Linked DNA regions of Homo sapiens: all the other regions are linked to region 1. Evidence: fine-mapped expression QTL. A gene starts in region 1. Each other region holds a variant in brackets. All regions are shown on one strand. Distances are between the middles of the regions.

What was found. PIP is the estimated chance that this variant, and not a neighbour inherited with it, causes the effect.
Region 2: its variant is fine-mapped to the expression of DPYSL4 in whole blood (TOPMed, PIP above 0.99).
Region 3: its variant is fine-mapped to the expression of DPYSL4 in esophagus mucosa (GTEx, PIP above 0.99).
Region 4: its variant is fine-mapped to the expression of DPYSL4 in whole blood (INTERVAL, PIP above 0.99).

What each region holds. Positions count from the first base shown.
Region 1 is chr10:132,184,667-132,189,808 of GRCh38, forward strand. DPYSL4 (dihydropyrimidinase like 4) reads left to right here and starts at 2,282. Exons shown (of 14, transcript NM_006426.3): 1 at 2,282-2,436. The coding sequence starts at 2,398. JAKMIP3 (Janus kinase and microtubule interacting protein 3) reads left to right here. Exons shown (of 24, transcript NM_001323087.2): 24 at 1-192. It overlaps JAKMIP3-AS1 (JAKMIP3 antisense RNA 1), which reads right to left and starts at 2,086. Exons shown (of 4, transcript NR_184044.1): 1 at 299-2,086. RefSeq lists an enhancer at 3,001-3,502.
Region 2 is chr10:132,147,025-132,152,166 of GRCh38, forward strand. It overlaps JAKMIP3 (Janus kinase and microtubule interacting protein 3), which reads left to right. Exons shown (of 24, transcript NM_001323087.2): 14 at 928-1,026; 15 at 2,388-2,486; 16 at 2,958-3,017. Among named protein-coding and RNA genes, the nearest start is that of JAKMIP3-AS1, 37 kb to the right of the region's middle. RefSeq lists an enhancer at 304-1,266. The variant C/T (reference allele first, on the strand shown) is at 2,971.
Region 3 is chr10:132,264,798-132,269,939 of GRCh38, forward strand. The region is part of intron 1 of STK32C (serine/threonine kinase 32C); the gene reads right to left. Among named protein-coding and RNA genes, the nearest start is that of STK32C, 41 kb to the right of the region's middle. RefSeq lists an enhancer at 1-242. The variant A/T (reference allele first, on the strand shown) is at 2,191.
Region 4 is chr10:132,140,607-132,145,748 of GRCh38, forward strand. JAKMIP3 (Janus kinase and microtubule interacting protein 3) reads left to right here. Exons shown (of 24, transcript NM_001323087.2): 11 at 1,314-1,442; 12 at 4,501-4,584; 13 at 4,912-4,974. Among named protein-coding and RNA genes, the nearest start is that of JAKMIP3-AS1, 44 kb to the right of the region's middle. RefSeq lists enhancers at 1,042-1,889, 1,890-2,736. The variant A/G (reference allele first, on the strand shown) is at 3,016.

The sequences.
Region 1 (5,142 bases):
CACAGGCCTAAAATAGGTTTGTATGGTGATCTACAAGATTTTACAAATATTTTTGTATTGTGATTCCTATGATATATACCAGAGAATTTTTTACTCGTTTGTAAATTATTGTACAGTTTTAATAAAAAATGTTTTAAATCTTAGACGATTAAAGTCCCCTCAAAGGTATTAAAGTTTGAACTGAAAGCCGTATGAGCCATTTCTGCACTTCTGAGTTCATTCTCTGAACAGTGCCTCTGCACACCAGAAACGGAGTCCGCGCCTTCCGCCCACTGTGGAGGAAAGCCCCAGTTCTCACCTGCGAGATCACCTGGAGGGCAAGCTCTGCAGTCGGGTGCCTGGCAGCACCTGGCTCCGGTCGACCACCTGGGAGGCTCCCTCCTGTGGCTGTTGGTCAAATGTGAACCATGGAAGAGATCAGACAGTTAGGAAAGGGACGGAACTTCTGCACGTGCATAAGAACAGTTGGTGATATTTGCCGTGGACGGTCCCACACAGGTGAGTAACAGACATTGCATTAATCATTTAGGGGAGGGGGAGCCCAGAGGAGGACGAAGGGGTGGGAAGCTGCTGGACCTAGCTCTGCTGGCTCGGGCCCCGCCAGTACTCGAGGTCATGGTGACTCAGTGGCCAAACTCTGGCTTTGAAATGCGGACTGCGGTAACAACGCAAAGGCCTGAAGTCTCTGGGTTCGAATTCAGCTGCTGCAGGCTGGGTAGAATGACAGATGGAGTGACAGCATCGCCCGTCACTCCTGTCTCGCCCCAAGCCTCTAACTCGGCTTTAAGGGAGATCAGCAGCAGTTTGCGTGGGCGGGTACACCCCACCCCCGCGCGCCCTCCACACTCGCCCAGGGTTTCGGAGTCAGGGCTTTCTTGTCTGGCGTGGGACGGCCCAAGGGGCCTGGAAATGTGGCCGGGATTCCCACAGCGGTTTCTCCGGTGCGCGCTCCCCGCCCGGCCTTCCCAGCGCCCAGTGTGTCCCGAGGGCGAGCAGCCACGCGTGGCCGGGACTAAGCGAGCACCCAGGGGCCAGAATGGGGCGTTCAGCACCCGCTACGTGGACAGAGCCAGCTCCGCGCAGCGCTGCCGGGCGGCAGGAGGCGGGGGGGGAGGGCGCGGCCTCCAGGTCCGCCCAGTGCACCTGCCGCGCAGACCTCGCTACAGGAGGCTCCGAGACCGGATTCTGTCGCCCGCTCCTGCCGTGACCGCGCGGCAGCCTCAGGAGCCCGCGAGGCCTCTGGCCCGGCCCAAGCTTGGCTGCGTGTTCCGCTGCGTGGAGGACGCCTTCGAGAGCAAGACGCTGCCGCTGGACGCTCTGGGCGGCGGCCGCCCGGGCCCTCGGGTTGGGAGGCGAGTCTGCGCGGCGCGCGGAGACCCCTCAACGGCCGCAGCAAGTCCCCGAGGGCAGCCCGGCGTGGCCCAGGCCCGGGACCCCCAGCAGGTAGTGGCCGCGGGACAGAGGCCGTGGGCCCGGGCTCGGACTCCCCGAGACCCTCGCACCCGGAGGACGCCGGGCGTGGGGCTCCCCCGCTCCCCCCTGCGGGGTCCTCCCTATCCGTAAAGGTCCTGAGCCTTCTGGGTCCTGCGACCACCCCCCACCCCCGCGAGGTCCCGCCCACCACCGCGTCCCGGTCCCTGGGGAGCGCGTGCGCCTCCTTCTGTCTCTCTCTCTCTCTCTCTCTGTCCTATTCGGGCCCCTCCTGCCCTCCGTCTCTCGCGGCCAGCGTGGAACAGCCTCGCGGGGTCACAGCCTGGCGCTCGGACCCTGGCCCGGGTCATCTGCGAAGGAGCCGGCTTTGGCCAAGGTGCCTTCCTGGACGGGTGTGGTTCCCAGAGCGTCGCGGCCCGGGGTTGACTGGCTCGGAATCCCGGGGCCTTGGGCGCCTCGCGTCTCCTGGGACCTGGGTTCCGCGCTGGAGGGCAGCGGGGGCGCGGGCGGGGCCTGGCAGGACGTGGCCGGACTCTCTCCCTCGCCTCCCCGGGGTGCAAACCCCGCGCACATCAGCTGGAGCAGGTTGAAATCCCCACCCAGCGCTCGTCCGCGGGTCTGCGCGGGGGCCCGGGGTGCAGAGATCAGACCCTGCAGCGGTTCCAGCGCTGGGGGGGCTTTAAAGCGAAGGAGTGGCTGAGGGCGGGGGCGGGGCTGATGGGCGGGGTGAGGCGGGGCTCGGGCTGGGGCGGGCCCTATCGGGGGCGGGGCCTGCCGGGGGCGGAGCCGGGGTGGGGGCGGGGCCCAGCGGGGGCGGGACCGGAACGGAGCCGTGCGGCCCCGCGCGCTCGCAGTCTGTCTCCCGCCGTCCCCACGCACGCGTCCCGGCTCACGCGTCCCCCCGCCCGCCCGCCCGCCCGCCCGCCCCCGCTTGTGCCGCCCCTACCAGAGACCCCCAGGAGCAGGATGTCCTTCCAGGGCAAGAAAAGCATCCCCCGGATCACGGTGAGCCCGGTCCCGCTTCGCCCGGCGCCCCCTGCCCGCCGCCCGGAGTGGGGCCTGGACGCCGGGCGGACCCTCCTGGTCTTGTGCGTGGGTGGGGGGTCCCTGCCTTTGCGTCTGGTCCCTGTCCTGGCGCCCGCCCTTCCCTGCTCGGCTCCTTCGCGCCCCAGGGTCCGAGAGTCCCCGCTAGCGCCGCGCAGACCCCCTTAAGGAGCGGGGCGCCCAGGCCCGGCCCGGCCCGGCCCTGCCCGGCCCTGCCGGGCCCTGCCGGGCCCTGCCCGGCCTTGCCCGGCCTTGCCGGCTTCCGGGAGCCTCGGCTGCGCCCGGGGAGAACCCGGGGCCGGGCGGCCTGTCCCTCGGAGCGCTAGCGGCTCCTTTCTCCCACGGCGGTCGGGTGGCGAGGCGGGCGGACGCGGCCCTTTGTTGGCCCGGGCTGGTCCGGGGCGCGGGGAGATGCCGTTCCCGGCGCAGCCCGTGGGTCGCCCGCCCCTTGGACGCACTGGCGCTGCGTCGGGAGCTCTTTGTCCGAGACAAAGCGATTTAGCCCCGGCCGCTCTGGCCGGAGTCCCTGGTGGCCCCGAACCCTTCCAGTAACCTGGGTTCAGCGACTCCAAGGAAAGCGAGCGGTCAAGGGCCACTGGCCGGGAACCCTGGCAGCCCCTGAACCTTCGAGAGCAGAGACCCCTCCCCAACACCCACACGCACCGGCGCGGGAGGTCCCGCTCTGCCAGAAACAAAGCCTCCCCGCTCGGGCGGGGGGAGATGGGGGTGGGAGGAAGGAGGCTTCGGGACCCGGCAGGACCTGGGCGGGGGAGTCCATGGGGTCCCAGACCCGACTCTGGACTTGGCCTCGGCGGGAGGGCCGTGGGGTCTGACCTCTGGCATTAGCTCGAGCCGTGGGCTGTGGGCTCCACTCCCCCAGACTCTGAGCGAGGAAGGAGCCCTCCCCTCTCCAGATGGGAGGGGCTGCTGCCTCCAGAGGGTTCTGCCCGGCTGGGTCTGGTCTTGATGCAGGAGGTCTTGCCAGTCAGCTGGCATGTGGGGGTCGAGTTTGGGGGTGGCAGGAGGACCCCTTCCCAGGGGAGGTCAGGCAACCATGTCAGTGCGGAGGGGCAGCTGCTTCCCGGGAACTTTCACCTCCATCCGGATGAGTGCAGTAAGAAGAGCACAGCCCCACACCCCAGCTGCGTCTCCTCTGGGTTCCAAACCCAGTCTCAGTGCGGGTGCCTGAACACTTGGGCGCCTATGAGCAGAGAGCCCAGACCACACGTCTCCTCAAGCCTCCTTCTGCCCGGTTGCGTTTTCTAGGGCTTCCTTGAAAATGCGTGGGTCCCCTGGGAGGGGTGGAAAGTGAAGAAGAGGGACAGCACCGGGAAGGCAGCCAGGGCCTGATGCGGCCACAGAGGCTCTGCAAATGCATGGTGGTGCCGGGTCAGGGCTGAGCCTGGCGCTCAGCTGGGACTGGGCAGGAGGAGGAGAGGTGCAGCGGCTGGGAACAGACAGCTCTGTAGACCAAGGGTCTAAAACTTCTTCCACAACCAGCCCGAGAGTAAATGTTGTCAGCTTTGCGGACCACGCTGTTCCTGTCTCAGCTGCTTGGCCCTGCCAGGAAAGCAGTCCTGGACATTTAGGAAGTCGATGGGCACCACTGTGTTCCAACAAAACTTCATCTGTGGATGCTGCAGTGTGAACTTCATAGAATTTTTGAGTCATGACATACTCTTGTTATTGTTTTCAGTGAATATACAAGAACGATTCTTAGCCTAGGGCTGTATGAAGAGAGGTAGAGGGTTGGGTCTGGCCTGTGGCATAGTCTGCCAACCGTTTGTAGACTATGGGGTAGAGGTTGACAAGTCACTGGGATCCTGAAAATACAGCCCCACAGTTAGATGTCAGCAGTGAATCCTGTAATGGAGTTCCTAGATAATGAACTCCTTCTCATTCTGAGAGTTTTACCAATTGTGCACTTCAGTTTAATGCTCTTGGCTTCAGACTGACGGTGCGTGAAGGCTCTAGCCCCAGGCTAGGGCCCTGGCCACCTATGGGTGGGCCCTGGAAACCCAGAGCAGGCGGCCGGACCTCCCTGTTAAATGCAGACGGTCAGTCCTGCCGGGTCAGTTGCAGGGCGTGCTGAGGCGCACGCCAGACGGTGGAGGGAAAAGCGTTGCCGAGTCCAGCCCGTGGGCGCGTCCTTCTCCACCTCCTTTCACTCCTTTTTTGTGTTTCTCTCCCCCATTCTCCAATGAGGTCAGATCTTCACCTCTGACGGTCATGCAGAGTCCCATCAGTGACACCCTACTTTCTGCCTAATCTTCTGCTTCCCGGCCATCTGGTAGGATTCTTAGAAGTGGATTTATGACTGCCAAGCACTGGAGTCAATCCCTGTCTAACGCCACAGCTCTGTGCTGCCAGGGCTGACCTACAAAGAGCGGGCCTCACCAGCCTGACGCTCTGTGTCCCACTGGGAGTGCGTCCGAGCTGCACTGGAACCGAGGTCACCCCATCTCTTCCCCATCACCCCCATGGCCTCTTGGTCAGCAAGTCCTGCCCTCCTGACTCCCAGCCTCTCTGGAATCCACTCTCCTCCCGTCCCTTCCCATAGTCCTGTCCCAGAGCCCCTCATCTCACTCAGAAATCACCCCAGCAATGATCCGGCTCCCACTGTTACCTGTCACAAGCTACTTTCTAACACAGCAGCCAAAGGTGATC
Region 2 (5,142 bases), 38 kb before region 1:
CACATGGAAATGCTTGTGCACGTACACACATGCGCATGTGCACACTTGGAGCCATGCTTTTTTCTGGCTACACTGGGTGCAGATCACATTCCTGGCCCTGCAGGTGTTCCACGGCAGGCCCACTGTGCAGCAGTACACAGCTGGCCCTGCAAGGGGGTCCAGCTCCCACTGAGCCGGCTCACTCCAAGGATGCAATGCTTCTGAGTTTATCTTGGTCCCCTGAGCATCAGAGCAGGTCCCTCAGTCCCTGGAGCTCAGCTTCAGGGGATGGACACAGCTGTCTGCCCCTGGTGGCCCCTGCCCTCATGAGGCTGCTGAGGACACATGCCGTGGGCCGTGTCACTTGACCCTTTGGAAGGGGTGGGGGACTCCTGCATCCGGTTTACTCGTAACTGGTTCCGTTTAAACAGCTCCTTAATTAGCCAAGTGAATTCCGGTGGCCAGGCAGCCGTGGTACCCGCTCCTTCCATTGGGCACAGCCTGGGCTCCAAGGGGCACCCGGGAGCCACCTGGGACATTTACCCTCCACGGCCTCCCTTCCTCATCCTAGCTCAGAGCCCCGCTAAGGCCCCCGTGCTCCTGGCTTGTGATGTACAGCCCCTGCTGGAGACGTTTATCCTTGACGGCCTCCCTTCCACATCCCTGTCCAGGGGCCACCCAAGCTCAGGGCCCCGATATGATCGCCAGGCTCCTGGCTTGTGGTATGCGGTGCTGCCTGCCCAGCCCCACCCACCACCGGATGGCTAGGCTATCTCACTAGGACAAACCCAAACATACCGAGGGCTGTGAGGCGCTTCCAGGGCTGGGTACCAGGCCAGCCGGCCTCCCCGGCAGCCAGCAGCTGTCCCGTCAGCCTGGAGTTGACCTCCCAAGACCTCTGGTGAGAGAGAACCAGACCCCTCACCTCATGCATCTTTTATGTTGCAGATCAAACAAATGGAGACGGAAGAGGCTCGGCTCAGACACGAGGTGCAGGACGCCAGAGACCAAAACGAGCTGCTGGAGTTCAGGATCCTGGAGCTTGAGGTAGCTGAGTGGATGGCCAGCACTGTGGCCTGTGGCTGTGTCAGGGATCTAGTCCTCAGCCTTCCTAACCCACACAAAGCCCTGAACATGAACATGAACATGAACATGAACCCAAAAGGCTGCGTCAGGGAGGAAAGAGGCAAATGGCCGTAAACCGCCACCTCTTCATACCGGCCGTCCAAACATCCAATGGGGAACATGGGCCATGGAGCTCAGTGTCAGGCAGGGACCACCTCTTCATACGAAGGATGAGGCCAGCCGCCCAAAGCACGTGTAAATATGGGGGAAATGGCCCGTGGCGCTCAGTGTCATGCAGGGAAAACAAAACAAAAGCACGACGGGTGACAGTGCAGCATCTGCTCCAGACCTGTGGGGTGAGGAGCTGGCACGTCCGTCCTCCATCTGCCCGTCCTCCATCCGCCCGTCCTCCATCCACCCCCAAGGAGCCGGCACGTCCGTCCTCCATCCGCCCGTCCTCCATCCGCCCCCGTGGCCCTGCTGCAGCTGGTGTGGGGCTCTGTCCAGGCCTCCGCCGTCGGCAGACGTTTGTTTCTTGCCCCTGAGTGAGGACAGTGGGGGCCACGCGGTGACTGGGAGCCCTTTGCCTGTGCCCTGCCATCCCTGGCCCTGTGTCCTCTGCCATGACCTGCACAGGAGGAGGGAGGAGGGGAATCCCACGGGCAGCTCAGGCTGGGTGTGGGCAGCCACGTCGCTGTGATTGTTTCACGGCAAGGGTGGTCCACCTGTGGGGCTGGGAGGAAGTGGCCCACACAGGGGCCGCCCCTGCCGAGCACCACACACAGCCCCGAGGCCTCCGTCTCAGGCCAGCACCTGGAGCCTCACAGTCCAGCTGGAGCCGCCTCTTAAGAGTCTGCCCGTCCACTGCCGGAGGACAGGGCAGCTGTGTGGTCACTCCATGTGTGGACGACCTCGGCCACGTGGGCCTGCCTGTGGGGACAGTGGCAGCACTGCCAGCCTGTGTTCTCCAGAGGCTCCTCTGGTCAGACCTGAAGGGGATGCAACCTGCAGCCCCTCCCCTGATCCTCCCCATAGCCCCTGGGATTCACTGAGGGATGTGCCCGTGGGCTCAGGGTGGGACTGCCCAGGCCACGTGGCCAGAGTGTGATGAACTCTGCCCGGCACATCTGGGGTCAGCGAATATACAGGGGCAGTCCTTGTGGGCAGGTCCAGGTCCAGTGCAGATTCTGCCACCACTGCTGCCGCTGCGGTTTGGTTTTCATAAATGCTGTGTTGATCCCTGGTTCCATGGTCTTGGCCCGTGTTCCTCAGGCCCCAGCACAGTCCTCTTAGAGGGAAGGGATGGGAGGGGAGCGGCTCACCCTTCTGTCCCTCTGTCCTAGGAGAGGGAGAGGAAGTCACCCGCCATCAGCTTCCACCACACGCCCTTCGTGGACGGGAAGAGCCCCCTCCAGGTGTACTGCGAGGCCGAAGGTGTGACGGTGAGTCCCGCCCCTCCTGCCCACTCCGCCCCCACCTCACCCATCCCCCGCCCCACCCCCTCTCCGCCCCCGCCCCACCCCCCTCCGCCCCCGCCCCACCCCCCTCCGCCCCCGCCCCACCCCCTCCGCCCCCGCCCCACCCTCTCCACCCCCGCCCCACCCCCTCCCTGCCCCACCTCACCCCCTCCCTGCCCCCACCCTACCCCTACCCCCCCACCTCACCCCTGCCCCACCTCACCCCTGCCCCCACCCCGCCCTACCTCACCCCTGCCCCCACCCCACCCTACCTCACCCCTGCCCCCACCCCGCCCTACCTCACCCCTGCCCCCACCCTGCCCTACCTCACCCCTGCCCCTCCCCTCCCCCTCCCCCACCCCCACCACCTCCCCTCCGCCCTTCCCTGCCCTGTCCTTCCCCACCCCCTCTGCCCACCCCGTGGCCACTCACCCCTACCTGTCCTCTGTGCCTTAGGACATTGTGGTTG[C/T]GGAGCTGATGAAGAAGCTGGACATCCTGGGCGATAACGCCGTAAGTGTATGTCGCTCTCCTGGCTTGTGCATGCCTCTTACACCCACAACCCCCAGCCCAGCCCCTCTGGGGTCCAGGAGGCCCTGCCAGCCTCCCACAGCCCTGCCATGGGCCACCCTGCCTGAGACCCTCCACTAGGCCCAGAGCCTGCTCAGAATCGGAGCCTTCCTCACACTGCTCCAGGGCCCACTGGGGCCTCTGCTGTGCACACCTGGTTCTTCCAGCTGATGGCACTTCCCATCACATTGCCCAGCTTCTGGGATCTCTCAGCCCTTCCATACTTGCCATGAGGATAGGGGGCTGTTGCTCTTAGACAAACCAAGACCCTTAGGGGTTCCACTTCCTTGGCTTGGGGGAAAAGCAGACTCTATAGATAACTCCTAAATTTCATTTGGGGCAGAGTTCCAATTTCTATAGCAAACTCCTTGAAAGAATGTTAATTACTGAGTGGGCAAAATAATGCACCTCTTCATCCCAATTTTCATCCGCCCATTACTAATCCTCTGCTCTCCATCCATTTATTCCCCATCAATGCACCATCTACCTAGCCCTTCATTCATGCTCTGTCTTATATCCATCCATCTATCTATCCTGTGTAATCCATCCATCCATCCTCCATAATCCATGTATCCATCCTCCACAATTCATTTATCCGTCCTCCATAATCCATCTATCCGTCCTCCATAATCCATCTATCCGTCCTCCATAATCCATGTATCCGTCCTCCATAATCCATGTATCCGTCCTCCACAATTCATTTATCCATCCTCCATAATCCATCTATCTGTCCTCCACAATTCATTTATCCGTCCTCCATAATCCATCTATCCATCCTTCATCCTTCATCTATCCTTCATCCATCATCCTTAATCCATCCATTTATCCATCATCCACAATCTGTCCATCCATCCTCCATCTATCTATCATCCATCATCCCTAATCCATTCATTCTCCATCCTCCATCTGTCCTCTATCCACCATCCTCCATCCATTCCTTCTCCATCTACCATCCTCTACCCATTAACCTTTCACCCATCCATCCATCTCCCATTCATCCTCCATAATCCATCTATTCATTCTCCATCCATCCTTCCTTCATCCTCCATTCATTCATCCATTCTCCAAAATCCATCAATCCATCCACCCTCCATAATTTATCTATGCATCCTCCATCATTCATTCATTCATCCATCCTCCATAAGCTATTTATCCATCTTTCCATCCTTCATCCTTTATCCTTCCACCTATCCACATCCCCTCCCTCCATCCATCCATCTATCCATCCCTCATCCTACCTTCATTGACCTTCCACTTCCTCCATCCAGTGCTCTGCATCCGAGGACTCCCTTCTCCCCTTGCCTGCCCAGCCCCTGGGGAGCAGTGAGGCACAGGGCAGGGGTACTTTCAGCAGGGAGGCTCTGGGTGTGGGTCTGCTTCTCTCAGAGCTGGGGGCTCCACTGTGGTCATAGGTGGCCGAAGAGCCACAGCAGGGTGGCCGTGGACCTGACATCTCTGGGGTCCAGTCCTGGGTATCAGCCCCATCATGAGGTCTTGGGAACTGTATTGGGCAACTCTGATTCACAGTTGGAGAAGCTGAGTCCCCAAAGGCACTGCCCAGGGTCACAGAGCTGATGTAGTGGCAGAGTTGGGGGTACCCAGCCCCACCCAGGCCTATTTCAGGGTTCCTGCCCAGCCCCATAGCTGTCCACCAAGAGTGCCACTGAGTGTGACAGCCCTGCAGTCATCATGCAGCCTCTGAGGCCATTGTCACAGAGCCCAGGGACAGAGGAGGTTGGATACTGGAGGGCTCATGGCCAGGCTTAAGCTCAGGGGACCTGTGGAGATGCTGGGGAGCTCTTGACAGTGGGCTGACAGTGGCCCTTCAAGCCTGGCTGTGCAATCAGTGTTGACTTCACATGCAACTTGTGGTTTAATCACATCTGGGTAGATTCCCTCAGTCACCCTGAAGCCACCTGCTCAGCCTCCCCAACTTAAAGTGTTGGGAGAGGTCTGTGGCCTGCCCAGCCCTGCCATGGGAGAAGGGAGCAGGGCAGGAGAGATGAGGGCACCTGGCCCCAGCCATGCAGGATGAGGTTCTTGCCTGAGTCAGGAGTGCAGCTGGCCCCCACCA
Region 3 (5,142 bases), 80 kb after region 1:
GGAGGTGGGGGCGGGACAGTCGCTCATGGCAGTTTTCCTTGATGGAAGACGTAAAAAATCATGTGAATAAATAGGGCGCTTCATTCTGACTTTCACTTTAGGAAAGACGTTAAACTATGTTAAATTCACAAAAGTTCAAGCCTCATCCATCATACCCGTATTTTATTTATACTCCGCCTGATGTCAGAGGATTCAGGACAGCCACACATCTTCCTGACCTGCTGCAACATGAGAACAGTAGAAGGTGCGAGCAGCAGACATGGCCGCAAGGGCGGTGAGGTGGGCTCTGGGGGTGCCTCAAGGGCGGTGAGGTGGGCTCTGGGGGTGCCGCAAGGGCAGTGAGGTGGGCTCTGGGGGAGCTGCCAGGGCGGCGAGGTGGCTCTGGGGGAGCCGCAAGGGCAGTGAGGTGGGCTCTGGGGGAGCTGCCAGGGCAGCGAGGTGGCTCTGGGGGTGCCGCAAGGGCGGCGAGGTGGGCTCTGCAGCCACCCGGGGGACACTCTGCTGGGCACTGGCTCTTCTCCTTCGATGACAGCCCCTGCTCCTCCCTGCCACACTCAGCCCAGGCCTGGCCCATCACAGCGAGGGTGTCCAGGAAGAGCCAGTCCTGGGCTTCTGGAACTAGGGCAGAAGCGACCACCAGAGCTGCAAGGGCAACACACAGCCTGGAGGAGCCTGTGGGGTCCTCACTGCACTCTGGGGCCCTGCCTGGGTGTGAGGAGAGGACACGGTGCAGAGAGACGGAGGGCAGGCCCATCAGCCCCGCACAGCCCTGGGAGGCCTCTCGCTTTCATGGCTCGGGACAATGTCTTTCCTTCCTGCTGAAGGCTCTGGGTCAGGATTCAGCCGCAGGCAGCCAGGGCACACACAAGGCAGTAATAAATGGCAAGCAGCACATTAAAGATGGGCAAGAGGCCCAGGCAGATGCTTCACAGACGAGAAGCTCCCGAAGGCCAATGAGCACAGGAGAGAGGCTGTCCTTAGTCGCCACGGAAACACAAGGAAAACCCAACGCGGGCCCCCTCCATCCCCCCGGACAGCCAGGGAGAGGGACAGCAGCGAGGCCTGGCAAGGACACCGGGCACCTTGACCCACATGCTAGGGGTTAGGGGGTGCCGTGCACGGCCGCTTGGGAAACTCAGGCAGCATCTTAGTTAAACATACACTTGCTGTGCCACCCGGCAATTCCATTCCTAGCTATTTACACAAAAGGAATGAAACAGACGTCTACCCAAGAATGTGCTTTGCTGCCTTACAACAGTCAAATACTGGAAATAACCCAAACGTCCATCAAGAGGATAATGAATAAAGAAATTATGTTATATCCATACGATGGAATACCACTAGGGGACTTCTTTTAAAGGAACAAACTCCCGATCCATAGCCACGTGGATGAATCTCAAAGGTGTTACATTGAGGGAAAGAAGCCAGGTTTACAAGAGCGCGTCGTGCGATTCTGTTTGTGTGAGTTCAAGAACAGGCTGGACGGATCCACAGTGAGAAGCACAGGTTTGTCTCTGGGGGTAGGAAGGGGATGCTTGGAAAAGAGCCCAGAGAACTTTCCAGAAGGAGGACAACGTTCTCTGTCTCCATGGGGGGTCTTGGTTACACAGGTGTGCCCATCTGTCAAAACATCAATCTGCATACTCACATCTGTGCCCTTGACTGTAATTATACCTCAATACAAATAAATAGATCATCTAGATCAGGGACATTCTGTAGTGGAAGCGTTTTAGGCATCTTATCTGAATTTCAGGAAATGGGTGTTTACCTTTGGCAGCAGGAAACTGAGGCTCACTGAGGTTACATGGCCTGCCCACGCCAAGGAGCCCTCAATTTGTCTCCAGGACAACCCCGAGCCCTGGGGGAGGAACGAGCCAGGGCTGGAGGGGAGGAAGGAACGCGGGCGTGGGTGGGGGAGGCGCTGGGCAAGGGAGGCTAGCTCCATGGGGTGGAAGGAGTGGATCACAAATGCTCTCGGGGAGGAGGGCACTGGAGGGGGCTCCACCGGTGGGGCGGGGGGACTCCAAGGAGAGCATCACACAAGCAGGACCTGGGGGCAGCTCGAGGTCAGAACAACAGGACTTCTCAGCCAGCCTTGAGGCATGGAGTGACAATGGACACTGGGGGTGGGGAGGGCTGCGCGGACGAGGCCGCAGAGGAACTGCAGCTCCAACCCCAACAACCACCGTG[A/T]GTGTTGGGAGCTCGGCCGTCACTGAGCGGGCAGCCCCCGCCCACCCCGCTGCAGTGGGGAGACCCAAAGCTGGGTCAGAAGCCGGAGCAGCCCCTTCCAGCCTGTCCTCAGGCTTCCCCGGCCCTGCTCCCCGCATGGTTTCTCTGACCTGTGACACGTGGGCCCTGGGCTCAGTCCAGGCAGTGAGCCAGCTGCAGTAGCAGCCCCTTTAGAAGCAGCAAGCCCAGTGTGGGGTGCAGGTCTCCTTTTGGGGTCCCTTGAAACCTGGCCAAAATGCGAGAAGTCTGCACAGCCCAGCATTCACTTGTATTCTGGAGGCCTGGAATACACCTCAGATCACACCTATGTGTGCGTGTGCCTGTGGGTGTAGCTCTGCACATGTGAATGTGCATGTGTGTCTGTATGCATGTGCATGTATGTTTCTGGGGCTACAGTTCTGTGCATGTGTGTCAGTGCGTGTGCATGCATGTGTATGTGGGTTCAGCTCTATGCCTGTCTGTGTGCATGCATGTCCCACATCGTGTGTGTGTCAGTGTGTGTGCATGCATGTTCAGCTCTATGCCTGTGTGCATGCAAGTCCCACATCGTGTGTGTGTCAGTGCATGTGCATGCATGTGTATGCATGTTCAGCTCTATGCCTGTCTGTGTGCATGCATGTCCCACATCATGTGTGTGTGTGTCGGTGTGTGTGCATGCATGTGCATGCAGGTTCAGCTCTATGTCTATGTGCATGCATGTCCCACATCGTGTGTGTGTGTGTCGGTGCGTGTGCATGCATGTGCATGCAGGTTCAGCTCTATGCCTGTGTGCATGCATGTCCCACATCGTGTGTGTGTGTGTCAGTGCGTGTGCATGCATGTGTATGCAGGTTCAGCTCTATGCCTGTCTGTGTGCATGCATGTCCCACATCGTGTGTGTGTGTGTCAGTGCGTGTGCATGCATATGCATGCAGGTTCAGCTCTATGCCTGTCTGTGTGCATGCATGTCCCACATCGTGTGTGTGTGTGTGTGTCGGTGTGTGTGCATGCATGTGTATGCATGTTCGGCTCTATGCCTGTCTGTGTGCCCACATGTCCCACGTCGTGTGTGTGTGTGTCGGTGTGTGTGCATGCCTGTGTATGCAGGTGCAGCTGTGCCTGCGTGCATGCGTCACATTGTGTGTGTGTGTGTCGGTGTGTGTGCATGCATGTGTATGCAGGTTCAGCTCTATGCCTGTGTGCATGCATGTCCCACATCGTGTGTGTGTGTGTGTGTCGGTGTGTGTGCATGCATGTGTATGCAGGTTCAGCTCTATGCCTGTGTGCATGCATGTCTCTCACATTGTGTATGTGTGTCGGTGTGTGTGCATGCATGTGTATGCGGGTTCAGCTCTATGCCTGTCTGTGTGCATGCATGTCCCACATCGTGTGTGTGTCAGTGTGTGTGCATGCATGTGTATGCAGGTGCAGCTCTATGCCTGTGTGCATGCATGTCCCACATCGTGTGTGTGTGTCGGTGTGTGTGCATGCCTGTGTATGCAGGTGCAGCTGTGCCTGTGTGCATGCGTCACATTGTGTGTGTGTGTGTGTGTGTGCCTGCGTGTGTACATGCATGTGTATGCAGGTTCAGCTCTATGCCTGTGTGCATGCATGTCCCACATTGTGTGTGTGTGTGTCGGTGTGTGTGCATGCATGTGTATGCAGGTTCAGCTCTATGCCTGTCTGTGCGCATGCATGTCTCACATCGTGTGTGTGTGTGTCAGTGTGTGTGCATGCCTGTGTATGCAGGTTCAGCTCTATGCCTGTCTGTGTGCATCCATGTCCCACATCGTGTGTGTGTGTGTCGGTGTGTGTGCATGCATGTGTATGCAGGTGCAGCTCTATGCCTGTGTGCATGCATGTCCCACATCGTGTGTATGTGTGTCGGTGTGTGTGCATGCATGTGCATGCAGGTTCAGCTCTATGCCTGTGTGCATGCATGTCTCACATCGTGTGTGTGTGTGTGTCGGTGTGTGTGCATGCCTGTGTATGCAGGTTCAGCTCTATGCCTGTGTGCACGCATGTCCCACATCGTGTGTGTGTGTCGGTGTGTGCATGCATGTGTATGCAGGTGCAGCTGTGCCTGCGTGCGTCACATCGTGTGTGTGTGTGCCTGCGTGTGTACATGCACGTGTCTGTTGGTTCACGTTGCATCGTGTGTGCATGTGTCACATCGTGTGTGTGTCTGTGTGTGCATGCATGTGCCTGTGGGTGCAGCTCTGTGCATGTGTCTGTGTCTCCGTGCATGTGTGTGCACACGGTGGTATGCACAGGGTGCTGCACAGGGTCTCTTCAAGTGAGCTGATTACGTGCCTGGCCTCATCTGACCGACACATGGTGCCTGGAGCCTGGAAAATCTGCTGCTGAGCTGCAGGACTGAGATGCAGCCTGGATTCCACTGGCCGCACCGGATCTTCCCCTGAGCTCAGGGCTGCCTCCCAGCCCTGCTGGCTGCTGCAGGAGGACCTGGGGAAAGTGTGTGGCAGCAAGCTGCAGCCTCACAGCCATTTATCACCATCACTGCTCTGCTAAGAGCCAGCGCCTCTGGGCTGGCTGCTGATGGATTGATTTTCCCCAAGGGCAGGAAGGCTGCTCGGGGCTAACAGCTAGTGGATGGTCTTATTTTCCAAACCTGAGCTTATGAGACAGACCCCAGGCTGTCGCCCAACCACATCCACCTGGGAGCATTCCAGACCCTTGCCTCGCCTTGCAAAAGGTGGAGGTGGGCCCTGGGGTCCCCTTCAGCCCTGGCCTCCCCCGAATGCCTGTGGGAGCGCTGACTCCAGCGGCACAGTGGGGGCAGTTCTCCCAAGCCTGAGAGGTTGGTGTTGGGAGGAGGCGTTCAGTGAGAGTCCCTAGCCTGCCACGGCCATAATAGCTGACACCCACCCAATGGTGGCCTCCCAGCCACGTGGGCCCCGGATGCCTGAGCCA
Region 4 (5,142 bases), 44 kb before region 1:
GGCTTGGAGGAGGTAACGAGGGTCTCCTGCCGGGTCCTGGGCTTGGAGGAGGTAACGAGGGTCTCCTGCCGGGTCCTGGGCTTGGCTGGGCATGGGCTGCCGGCTTTTCACGGGGAAGCCCTTCGCGGCCCTCACTGGCACTGACCCGCTGATAGCTGACTCGGGCACGGTGAGAAGCTCCCATGACATGGCTTGGGGTGTGGGCTGAGGCCCGCTCTTGCTCCCATGAAGGCCAAACCATGCCTCCTTCTGCCACTGAGCCTACGCCCCTTCTGCATAGGGGTACGGTGAGCTCTCCCTTCCTAAGGGGCCTCCCCAGGAGGGTCTGAACCACTCATCAGGGAGTTTGGTCTCAGTGCCAAGAGCACATTAGGGTGAGGGGTGTTGAGCAGGAGTTTTCTTTCTGATAACAGCACAGGTGTGTCTGCCCACCAGCCCCTTCTTCCAGAAGGACGGCTACCCTCAGGCGCAGGCAGCCATTTCAGCACCAGGTCGGGGCTTGGTGTTGTGGGACCCAGACCCTGTGGCTGTGGGACAAGGAGTGGGGTCTGCAGTCAATGGCACAGCCAAGGATTGGGCCTCCCGTGGCAGACCCTGGAGGGTGGCCCAATGGCCATAGACCTGTTGAGGGATCTAAGACATCCTCTCACAGCCTCAGGTGCAGGGTTGGGCAGGGGAACTGGGCCAGGCCAAGGCTTCTGGGCTCAGTCACTCCTAGACGTGGCCAACCCTTCCAGCCCCGGGGGTCCACCGGGACCCTTTGAAGGCAGCAGCAGGCTCACCTGTCTTCTCCCTGGGGTGACGGGGGGCACTGCAGCTAGCAGGGTGAGCCTGCAAGAGTGCACCTGGGAGGAGACGTGCTGCCTGGGGTACTTTACCCCCTTCACAAAGCCCAGCTTTCTTCCCAGGACGTGTTTCAGCAGAGCAGAGCGTGTGCAGGCCTGGTTGGTAACAGAGGGTCTGCTGGGTCAGGGCAGCCTGGCTAGCAAGCAGGAGCCCCAGCTGAGCCCCTGGCCATGGCCACCAGCCCAGCAGGCTCACCCTGTCCTCAGCCGTGCAGCCGACTCAGCTCCCACCCCAGGGCTCGGTGCTCCCCTCCCCAGGGAAACCTTTCTCCAAACAGCACTGAGTCCCCAGGCAGCCGCCCCTCCCTGCACACTGGAGCAGGTCCCCTCCCTCATGCTGCTAGAGAGACCCCCCCATACACCATTTGATATCTGGGGAGAAGGGAAGCCCCGGGGCCCCGCCATCGGAGGAGGTGCTGGCTACTGACACTGTGTCTCTGTGCGTGTGTGGCATCCGTGTCTCTCCAGGGCATGGCCAAGGAGGAGACGGAGCTGAGGTTCCGGCAGCTGACCATGGAGTACCAGGCCCTGCAGCGTGCCTACGCTTTGTTGCAGGAGCAGGTTGGAGGGACGCTGGACGCAGAGCGAGAAGTTAAGGTCTACGTGACTTCCACCGCGCGTTCCGGCCCCCCTCGTGCCTTCCCGCTTGACCCCGTGGCCTGGGCTGGGACACCCCCCTCACTAGCCCTCCTGGGCCCGGGCCCCTCCTCTCCTGCCCTTGCCTGCAGTCCTGGTGGTGCCCATGGAAGCCGATCAAAACCAGGGATTGGGGATCCCGGTGCTGGGAGTTGGCCCAGGTGGGAGGGACTGGCCCAGAGCGGTGCCAGGCACAGGTGTGAGTAAGGGTCCTGGGGGAGGCGGGGTGGTAGTGGTGGCAGGGGCCCACAGCGCCCAGGGTGGGCCTCCTTCCAGACCACCTCTTCCACTCTTGGCAGCATGGCGATGGCCCGTGGCAGCATCGAGCTCGGTGTTGAAACTTGTGGAGGTCATTCATCCTCAAAGGCTGAGCTCACACAGGCTGTGCCTGCCCCGGCCCCGGCCCCGGCCCCTCTCCCCCGGCCTCCCCACTGGGCAGCACCCCAGCAGCCGTGTCCCTCCGCCCACTTCCCTGGCTCACCTTAGCGTCGTCCCCCAGGAAAGGCCTCAGTGTGGCTGGCGGGTGCCCTCTGCGGGCCGTGGAGGGCAGTGCAGGCACCAGGCCTCGTGGGGAGAGCGTGGGCCATGGGTCGGGGGTCCTCTTGCCGCCCCACCCTCCCTTACTGAGGCTCGGAGGGGAAGCCGCTGGAGGACCTGCACCTGGTACCCCTCACAGCGAGACGGGCTGCTTTCCGGGGGAGCTGAGGGGTTCTCCAGAGCAGGCAGCTGTGGGGTGTGGGGTTCCCGTTGGCCTCCCCACCCCAAAACCACCCTGCAGGGCCAGAGATGCCAGTGTCTGGCAATTCTGCAACTTAGGGTGGCTGAGCTGGGTGGGGGACGGACCTCTTGGGGCGAGGGGAGAGTGTCCACAGAGCATCCCCAGCGTGGTCCACGCTAGTGCCCCAGGGAGCCGCCAGCCTCATCCTCTGTCCACCCAGACCGCCCTGGTGACGTGGCTGGTTTCCCTCCTGCCTTCCTGGCACCTCATTGGGGACGTCTGTTGTGAAAACTAAGAGAGAGCTCCACCCCTCTGTGCCCTCCTCCTGTCCTGAGTCGGGGTGGGGGGGGCTGGCCTTGGAGGGGGCGTCCCCTCCTCAGGCTCGGAGAGATTTGTCTCCGTAACTGGGGACTTTAAATATCGCCTCTTTCACTTTGACTTAATTTTTGCATGACCCTTGGAGAAAGGAAAAAGTCAAGGCCTCGGTTCAGAGCATCATAAAGCACAGCAGCCCCGAGACATCCCAGAGCCTCATGGGCCCAGCCTTTCTCCCTCACAGCGGGGGCGGGGCAACAGCCGCATCCTCCTGGCCAAGCTCGCCAGGAGCTGGAGGAGCTGGAGAAAGCATCCTGTCTTCCCTTTTTCCTGTCGGGTGCCAGAGAAACATTTGCTCGGGGGCCACATGGAAGCAAAGAACTCAGAAGCTTTGCTTAGAGAGTAAAAATGTCCAAACTGCATGTAAAAAAAAGTTTAATGTCATTTAGAATCAGAGGAAAATCTGATGCCGAGAAGTGCTGCATGGTTATTTTAAAAACT[A/G]GAAGATACAGAAAAGATTAATGAAGAAAATAGACTAGCCGGCATCCCACAGTCTGATTCTGTATTATAATTGGAAATGTCACTCCTCACTGTGGAAATCGAGGAAGCCTCAGGATAAGGAAGGGGGCAGGAGAGGACAGGCGTCTGAAGACATGGACGTGGGCCCATCCCTGCCACGGTCCTGAGGCTGCAGGGGGCCCACAGCCCTCTGTGGGCTCCGTTTCCCTGTCCGGAAACAGGGTTAGGACTAACTGGAATTCCCTCTCTGCTAAGCATTCTCCAACCCAAGGGCTCACATCCACGATTGTGACCCCTTAAGGGAGGGAAGAGGCTGGGGTGATGGGAGGAGCCCAGGACGGCCTGGGGGCAGGGAGCTGGGACCAAGCACTCGGGGGCGGGCACCACAGGTCACGCCTTCGCCCACCCCCCACCCCGGCTGATGGATCCTCTGACCCTGCGTCCTGTCCCGAAACGCACCTCTCCCTTGGAAGCTATCCCCAGAGAGAGCAGGAGCCACTGTGGCCCCATGGTTCGGAGCCACCACAGCAAAGTGAATTAAGGGAGGTGGCTCAGACCTCGGCTAGAAGCCTCGGTGGCACTCGGGAGGGACTTCACAAACCAGGATGCGGACGGGGGAAGCGCCAGGGCTTTTCCTGTAGATGTGGGGCGGGCTCTGGGAGTCAGTTAAGGAACACAGAATTCAGGAAGGCAGTGAGCCCTGGGCTGAGGCAGCTCCCGCACAGGCAGCCACACCACCCGGGGCTTCCAGAGGGGCAGCTCCAGTACAGGCAGCGGCACCACCCGGGGCTTCCAGCGGGTCCATGTGGAGAGTCCCTCGAACAAAGCCCTCTGGCCGGCACCTGGCAGGGCTGAGCACACGCTAGGCCTCAGTCATCCTCATTGGCTGTGTCATCCTGTAAACAAAGATTTCTCCTAACAGGCTCTCAAAATCAACCTGCAGGATTTCCCCTTAGAATCTAAGTGAGATCTCTTGCTTCAAATAAGCCTTAAAGTTCTCCCTCCAGGGCTGGGCGCAGTGGCTCACTCCTGTAATCCCAGCACTTTGGGAGGCTGAGGCAAGTGGGTTGCTCGAACTCAGGAGTTTGATACCAGCCTGGGCAACATGGTGAAACCCCGTCTCTACAAAAAATACAAAAATTAGTGGGGTGTGGTGGTGCATACCTGTGGTCCCAGTTACTCAGGATGGTGAGGTGGGAGGATCACTTGAGCTCGGGAGGCGGAGGTTACAGTGAGCCAAGATTGTGCCACTGAGCTCCAGTCTGGATGACAGAGCCAAACCCTGTCTCAAAAAAAAACAAAACAGTTCTCCCTCTCTTAGAAAGCATCTCTTCCAAAGGAAGGGCGAACAGTCACTTCTCAATGAACTGAACCAAAAGACAGACCCTTCTGACGTCCCACGAGTGTGTGTGCTGTCTGTCCCAGCTTTTAGAGAAAATTTGATGTATCTTTCCTCCCGTCCTACAGACCCGTGAGCAGCTACAAGCCGAAGTGCAGAGGGCACAGGCGCGGATAGAGGACCTGGAGAAGGCCCTGGCGGAGCAGGGGCAGGTGAGCCTGCAGCCATCTGCACGGGCGTGGGGGCACACGTGGGTGGGAGGTATTTGGCTGTACCTAAAGACAAGCTTCAGTGGTGCGATCATAACTTTCTACAGCCTTGACCTCCTGGGCTCAAGCCATCCTCCCACCTCAGCCTCCTGAGTAGCTGGGACCACAGGCATGTGCCACCACGCCCGGCTAATTTTTGTATTTTTTGTAGAGACGGGGCTTTGCCACGCTGGCCAGACTGGTCTTTGGTGTTCTGCCACATCACGATTTAAACGTTGGTTTATGAGTTCCTCCCTCAGTGTCTTTATTTCTTTCAATTCCATTTGCAAGGATATGAAGTGGATTGAAGAGAAGCAGGCACTGTACCGGAGAAATCAAGAGCTTGTGGAAAAGGTGAGCCCCGAACCCCTGGAGGCCCTGGCAGGACTCGCTCTATGCTCCTGGGGGTTGCAGTGGTCCCTGCGGGGCTGAAGGATGGAGCGAGGGCTGAGGCTTCTGAATGGCTGTCCCAGGCCCCTTCTGCTCTGCTCCCTCCTGCGGGACCCCATCAGGAGCCCTGGG